Homo sapiens: one gene and its partners. The protein of the gene in region 1 purifies or fractionates together with the protein of each later gene. This does not show direct contact. Each region holds a gene or a part of one and is shown in the gene's direction. Other genes may lie near its edges. The genes, in order: PRPF38B, ODF2, KNOP1 and SRFBP1.

The links.
Region 2: the proteins of PRPF38B (region 1) and ODF2 purify together in Homo sapiens (co-immunoprecipitation; one large-scale study listed by IntAct). This does not show direct contact.
Region 3: the proteins of PRPF38B (region 1) and KNOP1 purify together in Homo sapiens (affinity purification with mass spectrometry, with the first as the bait; one large-scale study listed by BioGRID). This does not show direct contact.
Region 4: the proteins of PRPF38B (region 1) and SRFBP1 purify together in Homo sapiens (co-immunoprecipitation; one large-scale study listed by IntAct). This does not show direct contact.

Annotation. Positions count from the first base shown.
Region 1 is NC_000001.11:108,697,283-108,703,290, forward strand, and holds the end of PRPF38B (pre-mRNA-splicing factor 38B), read left to right. Parts: intron 1-278; exon of another isoform or gene 279-527; coding exon of another isoform or gene 528-567; exon of another isoform or gene 568-575; coding exon of another isoform or gene 576-581; exon of another isoform or gene 582-735; intron 736-1,321; coding exon 1,322-1,545; intron 1,546-1,879; coding exon 1,880-2,738; 3' UTR 2,739-5,646; downstream 5,647-6,008. UniProt on the Homo sapiens protein: May be required for pre-mRNA splicing.
Region 2 is NC_000009.12:128,465,078-128,469,505, forward strand, and holds part of ODF2 (outer dense fiber protein 2), read left to right. Parts: intron 1-3,847; exon of another isoform or gene 3,848-4,105; coding exon 4,106-4,276; intron 4,277-4,428. UniProt on the Homo sapiens protein: Seems to be a major component of sperm tail outer dense fibers (ODF).
Region 3 is NC_000016.10:19,707,648-19,711,727, reverse strand, and holds part of KNOP1 (lysine-rich nucleolar protein 1), read left to right. Parts: intron 1-287; coding exon 288-356; intron 357-1,141; coding exon 1,142-1,219; intron 1,220-4,080.
Region 4 is NC_000005.10:121,960,503-121,964,774, forward strand, and holds the start of SRFBP1 (serum response factor-binding protein 1), read left to right. Parts: upstream 1-1,472; 5' UTR 1,473-1,530; coding exon 1,531-1,566; intron 1,567-4,272. UniProt on the Homo sapiens protein: May be involved in regulating transcriptional activation of cardiac genes during the aging process. May play a role in biosynthesis and/or processing of SLC2A4 in adipose cells.

The DNA of each region.
Region 1 (6,008 bases):
CATGGTGAAGTCCAACATGTCAAAAATGAAATGATGAGCTGTATTGTCCCTATGTCTACCCAGTCTACTACTTTGTGTTTTAAGGTTCATAAGACTTTTTGAGTGCTATGTGTCAGTAGTCTATTTACAGAGTTCATCCAAAGAATTTATTGAATTAAAGGATGGTTCTAATGGAAATCTATTGTGTTTTGTTATTACATGCACACCTAAAAAAAAAAAAAATCTCATTTAGACATGGAGAATTTTTATTTTTCTCTTTTTTTTTTTTTTTTTTTTTGCCTGTTAACTGAGTTACTTCACTCAGAAGAAGCAAAACGTGTTTTAAATCACAATCTTTAAGGTCTTTTTATCTTTAGATCAGTTTTTCAGACTGAAGTGCTTCTCCCTTCTGTCTTTAAAAAAGCATGTTCCTCTTCATAATTGGTGTTGTATTGGTTTTGTTTCTGGATGCCTCTATTTTATGTTTTTTATTGTGTTTACAAATCTGAGGTCCTCTATTTAAGCTAACTTATTGTTTTCTTCCTTAGATATCTGCAGCGATTATATTTGGAAATACTGTATATCTGAACACTTAAATGTGTGTGAGTGCAAGCAGTTTTACCTTTAGCTCTTGTTTTCCTGTTTAGATAACAAATCTCACTTTCCTTGTGTGCTTGCACTATAGGTTTGGGACTGACAATAGCTGACTAACATGTCCTGAGCTGTGAGAGGGCATAGCAAGAAGGCCTTCATGCGGTAATGACCCTTTTCAGAGACAATGGTCATCATGGATTATGCGTTTCCAATTATTTGTTCATTTATTTATTTTCTACATAACTAAATTAGAAACCTCACTGCTTCATGGCAGTTGGTTTGCTATTGCTTCCAGTTTTATTAGGGCTTCATTTTATATTAGAGCTGTTAAAAGATAACCTTTAGACAGGAATTATCTAAAGTAGATCATATGTAGCTAGGTTATGGTGCAAGGTATATGATGTGTGCAAATATGTCCACAGAAATAAATACATAGTAGGTATGTGGAATGTAAATTTAAGTCAATCGTTCCGCATAGTTTAGAAATGTAAGGGGCTTTTTCATATTGTTAACTGAGTGAGATCAGTTCCCTTTATGCCTGTGAGGCTGCAGGGTTTGTTCTCACTTGCATGCACACACTAAGCCCAAATATTTCTGTTCATTCATTGTCAGATCAGGATATGAAAATAAAATTTTTCTGTTAGTTTTTTTTGTATTGAGATTCCAAAGATGGTAATATTTTTATAATATTCATGTATATATGGAAATACTTTTTTTGACGGCTAGGGTATCTTTTGTGTTTCTGTAGGACCTAGATGTGAAGGCTGGTGGAGGCTGTGTAATGACCATTGGAGAAATGCTACGATCTTTTCTCACAAAACTGGAGTGGTTTTCTACCTTGTTTCCAAGAATTCCAGTTCCAGTTCAAAAGAATATTGATCAACAGATTAAAACCCGACCTAGAAAAATCAAGAAAGATGGGAAGGAAGGTGCTGAGGAAATAGACAGACATGTTGAACGCAGACGTTCAAGGTAATGTCACTCTTGAATTATGCTTATTTTTCATATATGCTTTATACAAAATTAATGGTTCTGAGAAATAGCAAGTTCTTAGGAATTTGTTTTTACTGTTCATTTTATTAGTTTGTCACTTTTACCCCCCAAAGATTATTTTCTTCCTTTCAGGGCTTTTTCTATAAAATTATGCATCTGTAAATGAGAACAATAAAATTTTTTGCTTTAATGATTCTTGACATGGCCTTAAGCTTGAGGACATGAATAAATAATGCTGTTGAAAGTTTTACTGTGAAAAGAATTGCATATGTTTTATTCATTGAAATTTTCTTTCTCCCTCCGCCTTCCTTAGGTCTCCAAGGAGATCTCTGAGTCCACGGAGGTCCCCAAGAAGGTCAAGAAGTAGAAGTCATCATCGGGAGGGCCATGGGTCTTCTAGTTTTGACAGAGAATTAGAAAGAGAGAAAGAACGCCAGCGACTAGAGCGTGAAGCCAAAGAAAGGGAGAAAGAACGGCGAAGATCCCGAAGTATTGACCGGGGGTTAGAACGCAGGCGCAGCAGAAGTAGGGAAAGGCATAGAAGTCGCAGTCGAAGTCGTGATAGGAAAGGGGATAGAAGGGACAGGGATCGAGAAAGAGAGAAAGAAAATGAGAGAGGTAGAAGACGAGATCGTGACTATGATAAGGAAAGAGGAAATGAACGAGAAAAAGAGAGAGAGCGATCAAGAGAAAGGTCCAAGGAACAGAGAAGTAGGGGAGAGGTAGAAGAGAAGAAACATAAAGAAGACAAAGATGATAGGCGGCACAGAGATGACAAAAGAGATTCCAAGAAAGAGAAAAAACACAGTAGAAGCAGAAGCAGAGAAAGGAAACACAGAAGTAGGAGTCGAAGTAGAAATGCAGGGAAACGAAGTAGAAGTAGAAGCAAAGAGAAATCAAGTAAACATAAAAATGAAAGTAAAGAAAAATCAAATAAACGAAGTCGAAGTGGCAGTCAAGGAAGAACTGACAGTGTTGAAAAATCAAAAAAACGGGAACATAGTCCCAGCAAAGAAAAATCTAGAAAGCGTAGTAGAAGCAAAGAACGTTCCCACAAACGAGATCACAGTGATAGTAAGGACCAGTCAGACAAACATGATCGTCGAAGGAGCCAAAGTATAGAACAAGAGAGCCAAGAAAAACAGCATAAAAACAAAGATGAGACTGTGTGAAAATATTTTGTAAAAGTGGATCACATTGAATCCTATAAATGATTAAATCTGCTTTTTTCCCCCACGTTGAGATTGTGCAGTAGTTCGCACTCCTCAAGCTCTCCCTGTAGGCTGCATTTTCATTTCCTCTTTCGTGTAGGGAAGTGCCTTTGTAATTCCATTTATTGCATTGGTGTTTTCACCCAATTGTTAAGTTTGATACATGATGCACAGATTGTTCTTGCATTTTTATTGTTTGTTTTTGAAATGTACAGTCTGTACATATGTCCTGAAAATGTTTTAATTCCTTTGGCATGGTTGCCATGTTGGTTAAATTTGTATAAGGCAATAAACTGCCACTAATCTATTTTTGTTTTGTAGGTGTGGGATTATGGTTTGTGTACTGAAGTTAGCATGGCTGTGCTTTTCGTAATAGAATGCTAAAGACTTTGAGAATGGATCTTGGATGTCTATTATAGGAGAAGTATGTGCTGCCAATGTACAAGAAGGCAGCATTGTAGGATTAACATTCTTGTCTACTGTATATTATCTTGGAAGGCTCTTGTTAATATGTTACACTTAATATTCTCCACAGTTACCTTTAGAGAGAATTTATGAGAAGTTAGTTTCTGATGCAGAGGTTTTTAGGCTGTGATTTCATCAAAAGTCCTTTTAGCATTCTACCTCAAAGGGACACTTAGTATGCCTAAAATTTATTCACTTAGTTTTCCTTTTTTATTTGAAAAAATACATGACATGTAATCTTTTTTTCTTGAATTCTTTCTCAGATTTTAAAGTACTATATTAAAGAAAAAAATTAATGTCTAAAGCCTAGCATTCTTGCAGAACCCTATACTAACATGTAATGGGGAGAGGGTGGGGCAGATGAGTAGAGAAACAGATTCAAGCCTCAAGCTTCCAAAGCATTTTTATAAATGGAAAATCCTTAAATTATGAAACAGCTTGATATAGTGTCCTTTTTTTAAAATTCAGAACTTTTTTTATTGATAATGGAGATTGCTGTTTGAGTTTTTAAACTTAATCTAGAACAGAGGAGTATTAAAAGTAATGCTGTGCTGCATTATTTAAGACTATCAGCAAATTATTTGATAGATTGTTCTTACAACTTGTATTCTGATTACAGAACCATCATGAGTGTGGAATAAATACTGGATTAAATCCTTTATCCTGGGTCTTGGCTTTTCCCCCATTTGTTAAATTTTTTTAGCATATTTATATTGTGGAAATTGATGAAACGTCAGTAGAGTCACACTTTGTGTACAGGGATGTCTTAGTGCCCAGATGACAAGTGAATTTTGGAGAAATGCATAGACTGGGATTGGGCATGTGGTAATCAATAATCTTTATTAGAATACTTGATAATGGCAGTTCCCTTTGTCAGTGGTTGTTACATGTGTCATTTGATTACTTTGTTCCATGTCAAAGACGTTTATTGGGATACCTTTTACTTGGACAATATGTTAGCATTTTTTAAAATTTGGACTTGAAATTCTTTAAGATAATTCACCCAATTCTTTTTAGAAAAGAAAATAGAGGCCCAAAGTAATGATGTCAGTGCTAGGGCTAAAACTCAGTATTCTGACAGTGTAGTGAACCTGGCACGCACATTGAGGTTTGTTTTATCTCACTGGTTATACTGGCCAACTAATGCGCACTCAGAAGCCACCTTGCAAAAATGTTAAATGGAGCAAACGAGTACACTTGCAAGAGTCCTCCATATGTGGGCTTAACATATGTACCACTCCATTTTAGAAAAATCTCATTAAATGAATTCTTCTAAAAATGATATGCTTTTTTCTTTTTTAAGAAAATTCCTTTGTCTTTTAAATTGAGCATCAAGTGAATTAGTGCTATAGACACCCAGAAGTTAGAAAAACCTATTGTATAATATGAAAGCCACTAAATTTGTCTTGTGTTGAAAATCTACTTTTAGCATACCTAAATTATGGAGCTACTACTTTGGATATGGTTCCATGTGAAATGTTTTATCTGACTATTTTAAGTAAAATGTGGAAAGAATTTAAATTACTTCACATGGAGGTGAAAGAACTATCACCTCGATTGACAGTTCGATGATCGTCACTACATTTGATTTCTTGTGGGTTTTTAGTTTGTTTTTGTTTTGAGACGGGCCTGGCTCTGTCACCCAGACTGGAGTGCAGTGGTGCAATCTCTGCTCACTGCAGCCTCCACTTCCCTGGCTCAAGTGATCCTCCGAACTTGGCCTCCTAAGTAGCTGGGACCACAGGTGCATGCTAGCACACCCGGCTAATTTGTATTTTTGGTAGGGTTGGGATTTCGCCATGTTGCCCAGGCTGGTCTTGAACTCCTGGCCTCAAGTGATCCACCCACCTCAGCCTCCCAAAGCGCTGTGATTACAGGTGTGAGCCACCACTCCAGTCCCTTCTTACGATTTTTAAATATGTTTGCTTTTGAGGAAAATTATGGTAGGTGTGAGAACATGTAAATTGTGCTAGTTATTGCTATATATATGCATGATTTATTTGGAGAGTGGCTTCCTAAGAAACTGGGAAAACAAGTGGCTATGAAAGACATCTCACATTTCTTGAAACATGAGAACATTTGGACACGAACATCACACGCCGGGGCCTGTTGTGGGGTGGGGGACTAGGGGAGGGATAATATTAGGAGAAATACCTAATGTAGATGACAGGTTGATGGGTGCAGCTCACCACCAAGGTACATGTATATCTAGGTAACAAACCGGCACGTTCTGCACATGTATCTGAACTTAAAGTATAATTTAAAAAAATTTTTAATACAGCTTAATAAGCATCCTCCATCCAGTTTTTGTACTTACTGGAATGATTTCACCTTTCCATGTATTAAAATCTTTTGCCTGTTTTTAATGTTCAATTTGCAATTAAATTCTATACATGGGCGAGTATATCATCAATCTTAAACTTTTAATATAAAGTGTTCATTTTAATATTGCCCTGTTTTTATCTCCTAACTCTGATTTAGTTCCTCAGTTCCTCTAAGGCAATGGTTGTTTTGAGTTCTGGGCCCACTTTTTAGTAATCTGATGAAAGCTACCATCCTGTCTAAAAAAAAGTACCCCACTAGGTGCAGTGGCTCACATCTGTAATCCCAGCACTTTGGGAGTCCGAGGCCAGTAGGTCACCTGAGGTCAGGAGTTTGAGACCAGCCTGGCCAACATGCTGAAACCCCATGTCTACTAAAAAGTGGAAAATACGGGCCGGGTGTGGTGGCTCATGCCTGTAATCCCAGCACTTTGGGAGGCCAAGG
Region 2 (4,428 bases), on another chromosome or scaffold:
TCCCCTCTGAAAAGCATAATGCCACTTCCAGCCCCATTGCCAAATCCTAGAGGTGGAAGGTCCCAGAGAGGTGGCCTGCCCAGGTTCTCTCAGCACCTGAAACAGTAGCTGTCTTTTCTGCTTTCATTCTTGTGTCTGCCCCTTTCCACTTGCCAGTGGCTTCCTGTGGCCCTGAGAGGCCCTAACTCAACCCTGTCCTTCATGGACGGAAGGGGAACAGCCCCTGGAGGTGGAAGTTTGAGGAAGATATGGAAATGAAGACCAAAAGCTGCTGTATGCATGTGGGGTTCTTGTTTGATATCTTACAACTCCTGGAATATAAGATCAGCTTTGGGAGAAAGAAGGTCTAGGTTTTTTTCTTGCCTCTATTACTAAAAGTGATCAGCCGGGCGCGGTGGCTCACGCCTGTAATCTCAGCACTTTGGGAGGCCAAGGCAGGCGGATCATGAGGTCAAGAGATTGAGACCATCCTGGCCAACGTGGTGAAACCCCATCTCAACTAAAAATACAAAAATTAGCTGGGCATGGTGGCACGCTCCTGTAGGCCCAGCCATTTGGGAGGCTGAGGCAGGAGAATTGCTTGAACCCTGGAGGCGGAGGTTGCAGTGAGCTGAGATTGCACCACTGCACTCCAGCCTGGCGACAGAGCGAGACTCCGTCTCAAAAAAAAAAAAAAAAGTGATCTATTTTTATTTAGGGAAATTTGAAAATACAGAAAAATAATCAGCTACTCAATTCTGGCTGCTATTAAGTTTCAAAATTTCTTGTTGAAAAGTACAGGCCCAGGAGCAATGGCTCACTCCTGTAATCCCAGCACTTTGGGAGGCCGAGGCAGGCAAATCAACTGAGATCAGGAGTTTGAGACCAGCCTAGCCAACATGGCGAAACCCCGTCTCTACTAAAAATACAAAAATTACCCTGGCGTGGTGGTCGCGCCACCAATATCAGCTACACAGAAGGCTGAGGCAAGAGAATTGCTTAAGCCCATGAGGCGGAGGTTGCAGGGAGCCAAGATCGCGCCCCTGCACTGCAGCCTGGGCAACAAAGCGAGTCTCCATCTCAAAAAAAAAACAAAAAAAACGGAAAAGAAAAACGAAAAGAGGACTGGCCGGGCCTGGTGTCTCACGCCTGTAATCCCAGCACTTTGGGAGGCTAAGGCAGGCGGTTCACCTGAGCTCAGGAGTTGGAGACCAGCTTGGACAATGTGACGAAACCGTATCTCTACCAAAAATACAAAAAATTAGCCCAGTGTGGTGGTGTGCACTTGTGGTCCCAGCTACTTGGGAGGCTGAGGTGTAAGGATGGGTTGAGCCTGGGAGGCAGAGGTTGCAGTGAACCAAAGTTGTGCTACTGCACTCCAGGCTGCTTGACAGAGTGAGACCCCATCTCAAAAAAAAAAAAAATGGAAAAGTGCAGGGATGTACACCCATCAGAAGTGTATTGCTCCATGAATTTTCACAAGCTGAAGGTACCTGTGTAACGATCACCCAGCATCCTAGAAGCTGCCCCTGGCTTTTGTCTATGTCACTCCCTCCCCATCACAAGGAGTAAGTAGTCACACTTTCCCATATATATATATATATATATATTTGTCATTTTAAAAAATATATAGTCATGTGGCCGGGCGTGGTGGCTCACGCCTGTAATCCCAACACTTTGGGAGGCCGAGGCGGGCGGATCACAAGGTCAGGAGATCGAGACCATCCTGGCTAACACAGTGAAACTCCGTCTCTACTAAAAGTACAAAAAATTAGCCGGGCATGGTGGCGGGCACCTGTAGTCTCAGCTACTCGGGAGGCTGAGGCAGGAGAATGGCGTGAACCTGGGAGGCGGAGCTTGCAGTGAGCCGAGATTGCACCACTGCACTCCAGCCTGGGTGACAGAGCGAGACTCCATCTCAATTAAAAAAAAAAAAAAAAAAAAAAAAAAAAAAAAAAATATATATATATATATATATATATATATATATATATATATATAGTCATATATCAATTAACAATGGGGATATATTCTGAGAAACATGTTGTTAGGCACTTTCATCATTGTGCAAACATCATGGAGTGTACTTACACAAACCGAGATTGGTAAAGCCTGCTACACACCTGGGCTGTATGGTATAGCCTATTGCTCCTAGGCTACAGACCTCTACAGCATGATGCCGTACAGAATACTGTAGGCAACTAACACAATGGTAAGTATTTGCATATTGAAACATAGTAAATATAGAAAAGGTACGGTAAAAATACGGTGTTTTGGGACCACTGTCATATATGCAGTCCATTGCTGACTGAAATGTTACGTGGCACATGACTGTTTATACATTTTCCTATTTTTGTCATTTTAAGTATTAAAAGTAACTTCTTTTCTTCTAAAAGTAATATACATACCTGGATGTGGTGGCTCATACCTGAAATCCCAGCACTTTGGGAGGCCAAGACGGGCTTATCACCTGAGGTCAGGAGTTCGAGACCAGCCTGGCCAACATGGTGAAACCCCACCTCTACTAAAAATACAAAAATCAGCTGGGCATGGTGGTAGGTGCCTGTTATCCCAGCTAGTCGGGAGGCTGAGGCAGGAGAATTGCTTGAACCTGGGAGGCGGAGGTTGCAGTGAGCCGAGATGGCACTACTGCACTCCAGCCTAGGCGATGGAGTGAGACCCTGTCTCAAAAAAAAAAAAAAAAAAGCAAAGTGTTTACAGCTTTGCATAAAGTTTCCTGAAGCATATATGCATTTTAAAATATTTAAAAAAATATTTAAAAAGCTGAGACTACAGGCACCTGCTACCACGCCCGGCTAATTTTTTTGTATTTTTAGTAGACACGGGGTTTCAGTGTCTCGATCTCCTGACCTCGTGATCCGCCCGCCTTGGCCTCCCAAAGTGCTGGGATTACAGGCATGAGCCACCGCTCCTGGCCCTAAAATATTTTTTATACTGACGTATTTAAAAAGTATTGTATTTTTTTAATACAATACTTTCCAGGTATTGTACCATGTGCATTTATAATATTTTTCTACATCATCAAAATAACTGATTACTCCTAAGAGCATTTCTTAATATCATACAATATCTGGTCCTTTTTCCAATTTACCCACTTGTTTCTACAATACCTTTTCAGCAGATTCATCTACCTTTGTAACTAATCCACTATCAGCTATTCATATTCATTTAAAAGACTTTTGACATATTTCATTTCTACCCTAGGTATAAAAAAATGTACTGCCCTAAACTTTTGCCAACTTTGGGTATTATTAATGTTTTTGCTGATTTGTTATATTATTTCTTTATGAGTATTGTTATTTTTAGAGACAGGGTTTCGCTCTGTCACCCAGGCTGGCATGCAGTGGTGCTATCATAGCTCACTGCAGCCTTGAACTCCTGGACTCAAGGAATCCCCTGCCTCAGCCTCCTGATTAGTTGAGATCACAGGCATGTGCCACTACACCCACCTGATTTTTTTTTTTAGAAGGAGTTTCGTTCTGTTGCCCAGGCTGGAGTGCAATGGCGCAATCTTGGCTCACTGCAACCTCTACCTCCCGGGTTCAAGCGATCCTCCAGCCTTAGCCTCCTGAATAGCTGAGATTACAGGCATGCACCACCATGTCCAGCTAAGTTTGTGTTTTTAGTAGAGACGGGGTTTCACCGTGTTGGTCAGGCTGGTCTCAAACTCCTGACCTCTGGTCATCCACCCGCCTCAGCCTCCCAAAGCGCTGGGATTGCAGATGTGAGCCACCATGCCCAGCGCTAGCTAATTCTTTTACTTTTATAGAGACAAGGTCTCGCTATGTTGCTGAGGCTGGTTTTGGCTTCCCGCCTCGGCCTCCCAATATACTGGTTTTACAGGGTATCCAGCCTATGTTCTTTATTTTAAACTTAACATTGTAGCCCAAGCTTTTAATTTTGATGTTGGGAATTCTCCAAAACCATCATTTAAACATGGATAGGTAATGTTCCATCACAAGGGTTCAGAGTATGTTCTTCCTGGGGTCCCCGAGTTAGCTGTTACAGCTTTTCCCGTCTAATCAGTAAATAAGCCTCCAGTGGTGGAACTCGTGGTCAAGGTTCTGCCTTCTGAGTTCATGTGTTTCTCCCTCCTCTACATCAGAATCCACCTCATTGCCTGGAGATCACGCCACCATCTTCAGAAAAGCTGGTCTCAGTGATGCGGTTAAGTGACCTCTCTACAGAAGATGATGACTCAGGTCACTGTAAAATGAACCGTTATGATAAGAAGATTGATAGTCTAATGAATGCGGTTGGTTGTCTGAAGTCTGAGGTGAGGGAGGTAGGGGGCTGGGATAGCTACTACCCTGAGGATGTGCAGGAGCACCCAGGTGGATTTCCTGCCTGGTCCCTCAGCCTGCGTCTGCAGGCCTTCAGGCCTCCTCTGCAGGGTTGCCCCGGGCTTCAGTTGCCTGCCCCGGGAGG
Region 3 (4,080 bases), on another chromosome or scaffold:
CACCAGTCCCTGAGCCGTGGGGTAACCTTGTAGTCACTTTACCTGTCTGAGTCTCAGTTTCTTCATCCGTCAAATAGTTTAGTACTACTGTTTTGCGGGAGAATTGTGGAAGAGAAGGGATGGGAAGGGCTTTGCTGACTGAGATGTTTCTAGGTGGCAGGGCTGGGGGTGATGCCGTGGTCTGAGGTCTTTTCTGGACTTTGTCATGGTCTCACCCTGGCTGGGTGCAGAGGCAGAGGCCATTCATTGTAAACTTGAACCTTAGCCAGCTCTGCCCTCTCCTGCAGGAAACAGACACGGACTTAGAGGTGGTGTTGGAAAAAAAAGGCAACATGGATGAGGCGCACATAGACCAGGTACAGCCCAGACCCTCCTCAGGCCCCTCCCGCTGCCTCCTGCCACCCTTGGAGTCTCACTTGCTGCCTGCCAGGCTGGCTAGGTGATCCTGGTCTCAGGGGCACCAGGGACTCCAGAGGCCACTGGGCCAGCTGCCAACGCACACCTCCCGGGCCGGGAATGCGTGCTTTCCCCATCCTCATGCTGGGGGCCCTTCCGGCTGCCGTGGCCATGGCCGAGAGGCCCGACTGGCCATTCCCTGTTACTTGCTGCAGGATGTGGGGGACATGTCCCTAAGACCCTGCAGCTGGGCAGGTGACACATGCTGCCACCCCCTGGGCTAATTCAGGAGCATTTAGAGGAGAAGTTTTGTTGTGAATCAGCTTCCGCTTCTGTCGTTCCCATATCCCGTGGCAAATGCATCCCTGTGGGAAGTGGACTTTCTGGCCTTGGGGATTTTTTTTTTTTTTTTTTTTTTTTGAGACGGAGTCTCACTCTGTCCCCCAGGCTGGAGTGCCGTGGCGTGATCTTGGCTCACTGCAAGCTCTTAAGCCTCAGTTTCTAGGAAAATTCATTCTTAAGAGGCTAAAGAGGATAAATGAGCCTGCCCAGTGTAGGCCAAGGGGCGCAGCCCTTGAGATGCTAAGAGAATACTTATGATAGCAGCTTCCCATTGTTTGTAGCAGAGTCAAGCTGTGTTAGTTCCTCCCACGTTCCGTTCCCCCAGCCCCGTCTCTGTCCTGGGTTTTAAGCTTGAAAGAAGATCTCTGTCTGACGGCCCTCTTCTGTCATCCTTCTTGCTCAGGTGAGGCGAAAGGCCTTGCAAGAAGAGATCGATCGCGAGTCAGGCAAAACGGAAGCTTCTGAAACCAGGAAGTGGACGGTAAGTTTGGGGCTAGGGCTCTGCGAGGAGGTGGCACGCTCGGCCTCCCGACGCTTCCCCTCGCCTCCAGCATGAGGAGTGGAGCAGGAGAACCAAGTATGTCCAGGCCCCAGAGGCAGCCCTAGCCTGCAGCAGGCTCCCTCCACAGCAGAATTTGTCCTGAGCTAATTTCCTTCCTTCTGAAAAGGGCGCTTGCCTCCCTCCTAGAGAGCTGGCCCGGTGAGATAAGCTGCCTGAACCTTTGTCTCAGCCCTGGACTGGTGGGGTGTCCTAAGGATTAATCACTGAGGACACATTCCAGCGAGCTCTTGCCAGTGGTGGACGATGCCTTTGGAGGGCTGCTAGGAACAGGGACAAGAGGCAGAGGGGAGGGAGTGGTCGCGGCCCCTCTCAGGCCTGGTTTTCAGATCCAGTCTGACTGGGAAATGTCCAAGCCGGGCCTGAGAAGATCTCTCAGGAGGGAGGAGGGTGCGAGGATCATGAGGCTGGAGAGTGTGAGGTTGTCAGGCTGGGGCCCTGGCGGAGTTCAGTGGGGGCTCTGTGCTGGGTGCTGGACATGGAGCAGATGAAGCCCATGTGATCCCCATCATCGCGCTCACGGTCTAGAGGCCAGAGCGGGGTGAGCATGGCAGGGAAATGGTTAGCAAACAAGGAAAGGAAGATCAGTTGAGGTGGCAGTAGCGGTCAGGAGAAAGAAACAGAACAGTGAGCTGGAGAGGGGCTGCAACAGATGGGCGAGGGCTGGGAGGTGGCAGCGCTTGTCCAGAGATGTTCAGGGTGCAGAGGCCCCAGCCCTCAGGAGACAGGGGGAAGAGCGTTTCAGTGAGGCCAGTGGCCGGTGCAGACCCCTAAGGTAGGAAAGGGCCTGGAGTGATCTGTAGGGAAGGCCAGTGAGGCGGCACTGCGGCTGGAATGAGGGACGAGAGGGCTACAGGCCACAGGCCTCGGCCTCAGCGGCCATGATAGAGAGCTGGCCTGGGATCTGGCTAAGTGGGATTGGCTGGAGGGCATTGACTCGGCAAGCGGGAAGACCTGGTAGAAGGCTCAGCCTGCAGGCCGCAGCCTGAGGATGGTGGCAGAGGATAGAGAGAGAAAACAGCTTTGTGATTTACTTTGGAGGCACAGCTGGCAGGACTTGTTCATAGATTGGATTTTGGGGAGACGAGAAGAAAGGTCTGGGTGACCAGCGATGCTGGCCTTCAGGCTCCGTCAGAGCATTCAGAAAAGAACAGTCGATTCGGATCAAAAGATCTGATTTCACTACTGGCTCTGCCACTGTCTAGTGGTGGGACTCTGGCCAGGTACCTTCCCCTGAGCCTGTAAAATGGGACTCGTACCCTGGCCTGGTGGGGTATGGAGTGGGGCTTTGTTATGGGTCCTGCCTTGGGGTGCCCTTTCTCTCCATGCCACCCTGCTGAGCTGAGCCGAGCTGATGGGACATCCAGCTTGAATAGGGAGGGCAAGAAAAAAGGCAGTGTGATTCGGAGCCGATGTCCCGGGGGGCTGTCCCTGGAAGGACCTGACGGCAGGAGAGTGATCCTGGGGCACAGGGGCTGGGACATGCCATGCCACTGAGACGTGGTGAAGTGGTCCTCTGGGTGGGCAGCAGCCGTTGGAAGTGCTGGTTCACGCAGGACCAGCTAGCAGTCTCCTGCTCTCCCCAAAACCCATGTGGGGTGGTCATAGATGGCCTCTCACTCTAGAAACTGCAGGGCAGGGGAGCTGTCATTATTCCTGCATCTGGGCCACCATGAAGCTGGGAGAATGTGTCACCGGTTCACTCAGGGCAGCTGTAGTGACAACTGGTTCTTATTTTCCCAAAGCCAACCCAGAAATAAGTGCTGGGCTGGCCTCTGGCTTGTGGGCGGGAAGTTCCCAGGCAGCGTCGATGTCAGCAGTCTGGTTGGGGTAGGGGGAGAGGAGTGGCCAGTCACTGAGGGCTTGAGGTGTGCCATGCATCGTGCACTGGGCTTTTGGTGTCAAATCTGACGTATGTCTCACTGAAGCCCTGTGAGGGGGATGTTATCACCCCACCTTAGAGATGAGGGCACCAAGGCTTAGAGAGGTTAGGGGACTTGAGCAGGGTCACCCAGGGGAGGCTTCCTCCCGGGGCTGCCTGACTTCCGAGTCACAGTCTTCTTGGGAGGTGAGTTTCTTTCCTCTCCCACCGACCTGGGAGAAGGGGGTCTGGAGGGCTCTCCTGCATTTTCTTGCACATGGGTGGTAGCGCACTCTGGCTGGAATGGGGACCCCCGAGTTCTTGGGCTTGGCTCAGTCTGACTTGGCTGTGTGACCTTTTACCCCTGTGGGCCCGCACCCGTTCCCGCCATAAAACAGTGCTTCTGAGAAGCACACTTCAGATTCCCACTCGCCCTCTCCCACCCTCCAATTCACCCAAACGTTAGGCTGCTGGGTGAGTGCGCCCGGCTGCTGGGCTGTGGGGTGCCCTGTGTTGCAGGGGAGGTGCGCCCTGTGGGGAGGTGGGGGAGGTGTGCTGTCTTGTGAGATGCATGGTGGGGTGAGGTGCGCTGTGTAGGGAGGTGGGGGGAGGTGCGCTGTATAGGGAGTGGGGGAAGTGCTATGTAGGGAGGTGGGGGAGTGTGCTGTGTAGGGAGGTGGGGGGAGTGCGATGTGTAGGGTGGTGGGGGGAGTGCACTGTGTAGCGTGGTTAGGGGAGGTGCGCTTTGTAGGATGGTAGGGGGAGAGTGTGCTGTGTAGCGTGGTGGGAGGAGGTGCGCCATGTGCGCCGTGTAGGGAGGTGGGGGGAGTGCTCTGTGTAGGGTCGTGGGGGGAGTGTGCTCTGTAGAGTGGTGGGGGAGTGTGCTGTGTAGGGAGGTGGGGGAGGGGAGGTGCACTGTGTA
Region 4 (4,272 bases), on another chromosome or scaffold:
ATAGTAAATTAACAAACACCATGATGAGTCAAGAGACGCTATGGAAGAAACTTTTTTTTTTTTTTGAGACGAAGTTTCACTCTTGTTGCCCAGTCTGGAGTGATCTTGGCTCACGGCAACCTCCGCCTCCCAGGTTCAAGTGATTCTCCTGCCTCAGCCTCCCGAGTAGCTGGGATTACAAGCATGCGTCACCACGGTCGGCTAATTTTGTATTTTTAGTAGAGACGGGGTTTCTCCACGTTGGTCAGGCTGGTCTCGAACTCCCGACCTCAGGTGATCCGCCCGCCTAGGCTTCCTAAAGTACTGGGATTACAGGCATGAGCCACCACCCTCCGCCGGAAGAAACGTTTTTCCTGCATTTTGAATAAAGGGGCCTGGATTTTCATTTTGCACTGTACCCCAGGTATTATGTAGCTGGACTTGAAGTCCTGTAGCAGTGGACAGTCCCAGGCAAGTGACTCTGGGCGAGGCACTTGGTGCCTCTGAAGTCACTTTCCACATCTGTAAAATAATAGTTCAGAGCAGAGTAGGGTGGCTCACTCCTGTAGTCCTAGTTATTTGGAAGGCTGAGGTGAGAGGATGGCTTGAGCCCAAGAGTTTGAGGCTGCAGTGAGCTATGACTGTGCCACTGCACACCAGCCTGGATGACAAAGAGAGACTGGGTCTCTAACAAAATAATATTAATAAAAGGAAAATAATTTCTATCTTGTTGGATTTCTGTGGAGATTTGGAGCTAATTTATGTAAAGCTCTTGGACCACCATTTGACACATTTTAATGGTCAATACTAGAAGGTGTTGACAATTATATATTACCTAATTCAAACACACTCCCTTACGTCTCCTATGCTTGCCGGCTAATAAACAGCCATTCCCACAGGCAGTACCAAATGTGTATCCTGGTTTTGCTTCAAATGTTTATTCCCTAAATTTAAACCCTTCTATAGTGTGCAGGAAAAAAATGTCCGCACCTCAGCTATAATGTCAGGTTGTAACAAAAAACTGCGAGGATTTAAAAAGGTGTGCTTGTTAGAAAAGCAGAAATCTTCACAAATACTAGATTTAAAAAAATGGAAGCAAAAAATCGTTCATTCAAGTGATCATTTCAGAAGAGCTCTTTCACCGCCGTTCAGCGCCCCCCTAGCCATTAGAGAGAAAAACCAAGGCCGGTACAATGCGAGCGCAGTGTACCAAGGGAACACACACACACACACACACACACACACACACACACACACACACACACAAACCGAATCTTGAAAAACTAGACGTTGCCCAGCTACCAGCCCCCGTCTGGTTTCCATAGGAACGCGCAATTCCGTTGCGTAGCCCTCTGCGCCGGTAGTTGTTCTGTCTCAGTTCCGGTTTTCCCTTCCAAGCGTCAATGTTTCTTGTTCCCAGGCGGCAGCTAGAGCAGAAGGCGGATGAGTTTTGGACAGAAGAGGCTTCCGTTGAGGGGCGTGGCGACGCAGCCGCGGTCTGAGAGACCGGTTCACGTGCAGGCAGCGGCGGATCATATTCCTTCATCTACCATGGCTCAGCCGGGAACTCTGAACCTCAATAACGAGGTGAGCGCCGAGGAACCTATGGGGCTGACTTTAAGGGTCCTCAAAACCAGCTCTTTTGAGACGCGTGGTCGGAGGCGGGCATAGAGGGTGCGGTTGGAGGAACTTTCGTGGTGGGCCCAGGCGGGTTTCCCGCAACTTGGAGTTTGGCAACCGGTAATTTCCCTTTTCGGTCTCCAGGTGACTAAAGTGAGAGACATGTGTCAGGCCCCACGAATTTATGTCTGTGGGACTTTGGGAAGAACCTTTAGCCTGTACGTTCAATATTCTCGTCTGTAAAGCGGAACTCAAGATAGTTCGTCCCAGGGTTGTGAGATTAACTGAGATACGTAAAGTATTTGCAAGTGCCTGACCCTTAATAAACTTTCAGTACACATTACCTGCTCTTTATTGCCTGTCGAAAATGAAAGAGAGAAAGTAAGAGCTGTAGCTTCTAAGAAATTGGTGGTCTTGAATGAGACTGTATGCTCAGTACTTCGTTTCCTCTTCCAGTTAGTGTCCTATTTCTTTGCTTCCGTTTACAGCAGAACTTCAATAAAGAGCTGTTTATACTTGCTATCCTCAATTCTTTTTTCTGCTTTTTCAGTCCATTCTCATCAGACATTTGTTCTCACCACCGTCACTTCCATAGTGTGCGGTGTCGACAAAATACCATTTCTACCACTTATCCCCCTCTGGTTTCTGCTTCTATTCAACAAAATAATGTCATCCAAAGTCTTAAAGTAAGCTGGAAACATAAGGATCGAGTAAGGACCTCACAGTTAGATACAGAAAGGAAATTCTTTATCCCGTTTATGAGCAAGTCACTGTTTAGATTACACACAGTAGTGTAAGGGATATTTCATATTTTCTAGTAACCTATACTCAAGTAAGAGAGCTAAGCAACACTCACCTGTGTTACAGAACAATGTGTGAAGAATGCCTCCAAAACCTAGTAATGCAGAAAAGTTTCCAAAGGCGGCAAAATGAAATGGGTGATACTTGTCCTTGGTCTTTAGGGATCTTGCACAGGAATTGCAGTCAGTGATTCAGGAAAGGGGAAGAAGTCATTCCAGGCAGAGGGACTGGTATAAGCAGGAAAGGGCTAGTAGCAGAAGAACCCGTGGGTAATACAGGGATAAGTAACTCTTCACTGATGGGAACTTGTGAGATGAAGAAGGAAATAAAACTGAAATATATTCTCTGCTGCCAGATTAACGAGTCAGGATTTCAGTTGACAGTGGAGTACAGGATATGCTGAAGAGGGAAGCTGAAAGTAGTTACTATTTACTCATAAACATACATTAAGCTTGTGCTTTGTGCCAGAAAGCGTTTGGTGGGCTATTTTGCATTAGGTTACCTGTGATGTATGAAAGATCAGAGTAATGTCCCTGGGATTTCAACCCCAGGGAGCTTCATATCAAATTTTGTAATGACTTTGATGATGGAAATGACAGGGGATGAGTCATTAAAGACTCTTTTCACACTTAGCTAACTTTTGTTCTTCTTCAAAACAGTTAAAATTTGACCTTTAGGAAACCTTCATTAACTCCTCTCGGTCTGGGTTAGGTGTCTGTTCTTTGTGCACCCAGATTGCTTTCTCCTCTGGAAACACTTATGTAACTGTTTCTGTCTTCCTGTGTTTATGTGTCTATCATGTGTAGCACATATGTTTACTAGGTGATTACATGAATTTGTGAAAGCAGGAACTACACACATCCACCACTGAAGTCTAGTGTGTTCTAATGTGAAGGAGATAAAAAGGACAGAAAAAAGTGGAGATGATGGAGGATATTATAATTTAAAATTAGTGGGAAAAAAAACCCACAAAAGGAAAGAGAGATTTATCTACATAAAAATTGAATAACCTACCAAAGAAAAGAAATGACAACCAACTAGAAAAAAAAAATACAGCAGATATGACAAAGGGCTAATGCCCTTAATAGGAAATACCTCATAGAAATTAAAAGAAACCATCTCAGAAAATAGGCAGAAGAAATGAATTAACTTCTTCAAGGAGGAAATGTATCTGAAAAATAATTTGAATTCGCTTTCAATCTTTTCAATTCTTTTCCATCACCACTAGAATCCTAGTACAGCTACTGTACTAGCTTCCCAACTACTTACATTGACTCTTCTCAAACTTTAATCTTTTTTTTTTATATGTATACTTTAAGTTCTGGGGTACATGTGCAGAACGTGCAAGTTTGTTACATAGGTATACATGTGCCATGGTGGTTTACTGCACCCATTAACCTGTCGTCTACATTAGGTATTTCTCCTAATGCTATCCCTCCCCCTTTCCCCCCACCCGACAGGCCTTGGTGTGTGATGTTCCCTTCCCTGTGTCCATGTGTTCTCATTGTTCAACTCAAACTTATGAGTGAGAACATGCAGTGTTTGGTTTTCTGTTCTTGTGTTGCTTTGCAGAGAATGATGGTTTCCAGCATCATCCATGTCCCTGCAAAGGACATGAACTCATCATTTTTTATGGCTGCATAGTATTCCATGGTGTATATGTGCCGCATTTTCATTATCCAGTCTATCATTGATGGGCATTTGGGTTGGTTCAAAGTCTTTGCTGTTGTAAACAGTGCCACAATAAACATACATGTGCATGTGCCTTTGTAGTAGAATGATTTATAATCCTTAGGTATATAGCCAATAATGGGATTGCTGGGTCAAATGGTATTTCTATTGCTAGATCCTTGAGGAATCACCACACTGTCT